Linked DNA regions of Homo sapiens: region 1 is linked to region 2. Evidence: fine-mapped expression QTL. Tissue or cell type: subcutaneous fat. Region 2 holds a variant in brackets; the other region holds the start of a gene. All regions are shown on one strand. Distances are from middle to middle. Region 1 holds the start of PLA2R1 (phospholipase A2 receptor 1). Region 2 has its middle 21 kb from the start of LY75-CD302.

The links. PIP is the estimated chance that this variant, and not a neighbour inherited with it, causes the effect.
Region 1: it holds the start of PLA2R1, and the variant in region 2 is the best candidate, but not a certain one, in a credible set for the expression of PLA2R1 in subcutaneous fat (TwinsUK, PIP 0.81).

Annotation. Positions count from the first base shown.
Region 1 is chr2:160,061,341-160,064,252 of GRCh38, reverse strand. It overlaps PLA2R1 (phospholipase A2 receptor 1), which reads left to right and starts at 1,638. Exons shown (of 30, transcript NM_007366.5): 1 at 1,638-1,958. The coding sequence starts at 1,850.
Region 2 is chr2:159,924,275-159,927,186 of GRCh38, reverse strand. It overlaps a transcript of PLA2R1 not described here. Among named protein-coding and RNA genes, the nearest start is that of LY75-CD302, 21 kb to the right of the region's middle. The variant A/G (reference allele first, on the strand shown) is at 1,363.

The DNA.
Region 1 (2,912 bases), 140 kb before region 2:
CCATCCTAGAACAGCCTCTTCCTCCCAATACCCACCATACTATCTGAGCATAGTTAGGCCTCTATGCCCACTCCAGCCTAGTCTCTCTCCCCTTTACTCTCACTGCCCTGGACCTCACCAGAGATTAGCATCAGTGTCCTGTTTTATGACCTAATTATGTCATGTGCATTGCACTTGCCTGCTGCAATACATGCCAGCCTGCTCGGGCAGGGCCAAATCTTCTATCATAATACTACGGGGATATTCCCATAGCAATGTAGTTCTGAGGCCATAGGAGAGATGGATACATAGTTTGTGGCTGAAGTCTGTGTAATCTACTAGGCTTAAAGCATCTCTTTTCTGCATGTTTTCAAGCAAGGATGCTGAATTCTACATGTAATGATATGTTATAAACTCTACACACATTGGAACCTCTCACATCCTCTCAACCCACCTCTTATTCCAGCCCCCTCTGCAGCCTGTTTCCCCCGGCTGTCCCCCACCCCCCAACCCTCTGAGAAACAACCTGACAGCGCCTCACCTTTTGCCATGCTATGCACCCAGGGCTTCTAAGAGACAAGGTATGGGACCATGACTGAAACTCACCACTGCTGTAGAACAGTGCAGAGGAGTTAATAACCCTAGGATCTCCCTTACCAACAGGGAAGGATAAAGTCCATGGATAAACGCTTGCCCCTTTTGTCCTCGACAGACAGTTCTGAGGCTCTCTGAGGTTCCTGCAGGACTGAGCACCTTTTGTTAAGGCCATGGCCAAGGCAACCACTTTCCCTTCTTCCCCATTTGGCTCTGACCTTCAATCTTGCTCCCTGCTAGGCATTTCCTTCCAGGCTCTGCTTTCTGCCCCTCCCCTCCCCCTCTCTTATGTTTTAATGACTAATGTCAAGGTCCCGCTGAGGAAAGGTCTTATATGAGCCTGTTCTCAGAATATTAAACGCTTCCAGTGTTCTGCTGGTTATTTGAAGGAGGACAGTTAGAACGACTACATTCTAGCCAGGGCTGTCCTACTTGCTAGAGAGTAACTTTTGCTGGATTAGGAAGTAACCTAGAGCAAAGCACTTCGACTTTCTGGGCAGGGTTTCTCAGCTGTAAAAATGGGATAATAGGGACCCCGGCTACTTTGCGGGGCTTGGGGGATCAAAGGAGTTGGAAAGAGGAGGTTATTTCAAAACCGAAGGAGCTGAATAGAAGAATCTCCGGGTTACTCTGGGGCAAGGAAGGTGGAGACCACGGCGTGGCCCCTCAGGTGTCTCCAGTGCTCCACAAGTCAAAGGAGTCCAGGACCCTCCCAAAGCGCCTGCGTCGCGGAGCAGCTGGGTTCACTCTAGGCTGCCCGCTGCAAATCCGCGGTGTTTACCAGAATCCAGGTGGTTTGCAAACCCGGATGTCAGGCTCCTTGTCCCGGAGATTCTCAAATCGCTCACCCACAACTCCTCTTCGGCCTCCCCCAGAAAGGAGAGAGCAGGGCTGCAAGCTAGAGGAGCGGAGAGTGTGACCCGAGCAGCCTCACTCCGCCTGTCCCCACCCCAAAGGCAGGAATTTCTGGGATGGGCAGATGGCCCACCCCTCCTCCTCCTCCTTCCCCAAGCCGCAGTGGGTGGGGCGAGGAAAACCTCCGCGACTTTCCCGCATCCCAGCCCAGAGCCCCGAGTGTCGGTTCACTGTGGAGACAGCGGTGGCGGAGTGGGTCTCCAGGGCTCTGGGCTGGCAAGGCCCCCGGAGGGGGTGGGGCGCGGAGGAGGCTACGGATCCGCTTCCGCGCGGCGGGGCCGGGTGCTTGGGACGCGGCTCTGGGCTCCCGGGATAAGGGGCTCCCGGGACAAGGGGCTCCCGGAGAGCCCAGTGGTTAGCGATGCTGCTGTCGCCGTCGCTGCTGCTGCTGCTGCTGCTGGGGGCGCCGCGGGGCTGCGCCGAGGGTGTGGCGGCGGCGCTTACCCCCGAGCGGCTCCTGGAGTGGCAGGGTGAGTCTCCCAGGGTCGGGGACTGGATCGGTACGTTGGGGAGGGGGGTCGGGGTGGTCGAAGGAGAGGAAGAAGGGGCGAAGCTAGGGGCCAAGCTGGCGGGCAAGGGCGGCCGCGTTTGTAGGGGTTCGTGTGTCAGCAGTCCTGAGCATGGGGGGAGCGGGTGGTGTCCTGCAGCCTCTTGTCTAGGCCCAGCACCCCACTTGCGCGGCCCGGCACCCTCCTGGCTCCTGCGGGGGTCGGGCGGCGGGGGCGGGGGGGCTTGGTCTCGCAGGTAACTCCTCTCGGCTCTGGCGCCCGGAGCCAGCCCGGGATAGGAGTGTCGGAGAAGTTTCAAAACGGAAACTTTCTGAGAGCTGCTTATTTGGGACGGATAAATGATAGCAAAAAGATGGCTCAGTTCGTCCCCTTGCAAAGCAAGCGCTCAGGGTCTGCGTCGCCACCTAGGAGTGACCCCCAAGCCAGGCCTCCCCAGTCCATCCCTTCCTTAAGGAAAACTTTTTTTGTTTGTTTGTTTTTTGAGACAGGGTCTTGCTCTGTCGCCCAGGCTGTAGTGTAATGGCGGGATCTCGGCTCACTGCAGCCTCCGCCTCCCGGGGTCAAGCGATCCTCCCACCTCAGCCTCCCGAGTAGCTGGGACCACAGGTGTGCGCCCGCACGCCCAGCAAAATTTTTGTATTTTTGGTGGAGACGGAGTTTCACCATGTTGCCCAGGCTGGTCTCCAACTCCTGGGCCCAAGTGATCCGCCCACCTCGTCCTCCCAAAGTTCTGGGATTACAGGCCTGACCCACCGCACCCCGCCTGAAAACATCAGGCCAGGTGAGGGAGAGAAGCCCCAGTGGCTCCATGAACTGCGTGATCTGAAGCCTTTATGCCTTAGTCTCTCTCAGTGGAAAAACGGGGTTCAATTCAGCAAACACTTATTGAGCACCTACTACACATGAGACTCAGAA
Region 2 (2,912 bases):
TGAATGCAAAGTCTTTTAGCATCAGTTTTATTTACCCTTCCTCCCTCCCAGTCCTGTATGGATGATGGCTATTCCTCCAAAGTCACACTCCACCCTTCTTTACCCTGCTCTGTGCCTCAGATGATGTCCCTTGGTGTCCTTGCCCTCTAGTTTTGGTTGGGTCCAGCCCAGTGTGGGGCTGGGAAAGGAGATTTGAAGATGGAAAGTAAGCAAGTTTGGAGATTTGGGACCCCTTGGCTCCCTCCTTGCCTTGCTGGAACCTAGCACTGGCCACATTCCTCCACCGGGGACGCAGTGCTGGTCACCTGCTCCTCTCCATAGCTTCAGTGTTTTCCAGATCCAGGAACAGCAAACACACTGTCTCTTCAGGCCTGGGGTGGTGAAGGCTCCCTGCTCCATGGAGCTGGGTGGGGGGAAGGGGTAGTTCATCATCCCTTGTTACTTCCCTTAACCTTCTCACACCTTTATAAATACAGTAGTCCCTTTATTAAACTCTCTCCAGTGACCACTTCGAGTGAGCCACCCATTTCCTGGAGAGCCCCTACTTATACAGCAAGCTTGCAAACATGCCACATGCTTTTGATATTGGAATGGCTCACTATTTAGCCATCTTTTTTCCCCCAACTTTCCATTTCATTTTTGTGGGAAGCTTTTCCAACACAACAACATAAAATTCCAATTAAACACATGTTCAGCCCTACTAGACTCTGGGAGCAAGCATAGTAAATCATTCCCAAGTAAGCCATTCTTGATCTAAAATAAGTGTGGACACTAAAGAAAAGGTTATTATAAGCCCAAACTGCTAAATTATACTTTCATGACTGAACACAACTGTAATCCATATTATTATTTTAAATTACACTATAAAAAGCAGTCATTTATCGCCTTTCCAAAACACAGTGATAATATATTACCAAATTATCAAGGGTTCTTTATTAAATCTCTTGAATTTGATTTATAATACATGAGGTAGCTTATCCTTGAGAAAGATCTACTAAAAGGTATACTTAGTCTTAAAGCTAGTGAAATAAAATCTCCCTCTAATCAGCTGCCAGAAAGCTTCCGCTTCAGTGCTTTGTTGATACTGGTGTCAGCAGGACATTAAAAGCTTGAAGCTTTTTACGTTTGATCAAATACCAACATTATGCTGAAGCAGAAGTATTAATTCATAGAGTAAAGCTTCCAGAACCTCTCCAGCTCTCCTTCATCCTTCCTCCCCCCACCAAAAAGGTCACATCAAATCAGGGGTTCAGGGACAAAACAGAGACGGGCATTTTGTCAGTGTTTCATGTACACAAAACCACTCTAGAACCCAAGGGAGAGACAAGCACTAAAATATACTTTTCTAAAAATGCCAATCCC[A/G]TCTAAGAAAGGGGAAAGTAACTGTTGCTGAAAAATAAGAAGGTGACCTGGTTATTATTCTCATCTTATAATGAGAAATGGAGCACCAGAAAGGGTCAGGAATTTGCCCCAAATTTTCAGCTAGTGTTTGGGGAGCTGGGATCCTTGTCAATCAGATCATATTACTACAGTCCCTTCCTGAACAAAACCTCTCAACAAAGAAATAGGAAGCCTCCAAGATTAAAGAAAAAATCATTTTTTTCCACAACTTTTTTTTTTTTTTTGCTTTGATTCCAGGCCTTCTAAAAGAAAGTTTTTATTATGCTGCCAAATTCACAAAAATGTTCAAGGGAACAGATTGAATTTTAAGTGTGTCTCAGAAACCTGCAGGAAAGTGTCAACAATAAAAACAATGTTCTCAGAAGATTATTTATACATAAGAGCCCAAAATGTATTTATATTGACATCTACATAGTTGCTGTAAATGCTAATTTCAGTTATCTTTTACATGGCTTTCTCCCCCTTGTCAATACACACATACGCACCCCTACAATGGAGAAGTAATGCAGACACTGTGCAGCCTGTAAGATGCTTACCATTGCCGTAACACAATTAAGACATGCAAGATCCTAATTGATTGTTTGTTTGTTTTTTTTTATAACTGACGTGGAAAATAAGAGTTAGCACCATTGTTTTTAACAGGTATACAGGTGAGAGGAGCTGGAAAATTCATTGCTGACATGGAGAAATACATGTGTATCGGGGAAAGGGGGCAGATATAAGAAGGATCATTTTGGTTTGTTTGAAAATCACATATCAAAGTGTTGAGGAAACAGAAGTTATCCACATCGTATTGCCCAAGTCCTTATTGCCATAAATGTATTGGACAACATGGGGCACCACAGGAGTAATATGCCTCAGACCAGATTGGAAATGGAACGTACCGTGACATACAACCAACTGTTATTCTTAACAAAATATAGGATCTAACCAAATTGTCCATACTGGGGTCTGGAACAGATTTTTCCTGGGAGCGAAAAAAGAACACGACCCCAAATCCACTTCTCGTGTTTTTATTTTTTATTTTTTTATTTTTGTTCGCACCGCCCCCCCCCCAGCCCCCAGAGTAAAAGAAAACTGTTTTCTAGGTAAATGGTCTTTCCTTAGCAGTACTTGCATGGCTTGGCATTTGGTGCCCAAAGCATTCAGCAATAGGTAACTTCTTTCAGTTTAAAGATTCTGGCTGGTCCATTACATAGAATTTCATTTTTATGAATCTTTGAAGACTATCGTACTTGATATTTGACATCCATTTTGGCTGCTTTCATCTTTGAACACCTTTCCTGACATGAAGCTACTCCCCAGCCTCCTCGCAGCTCAGGAGCAGGCATGGGACATAGGCTCCACCAATGAGATCTGAATAAGAGAGACTTCGATTCAGAAGCAAATGACAATGTCCTAGGCTGAAGAGTAGTCCCTACAGATATCAGATCCTAATCCCTGGAATCCGAATGTTACCTTATGTGGCAAAGTCTTTGCAGATGGGATTCAGTTAAGGATGTTGAGATGAG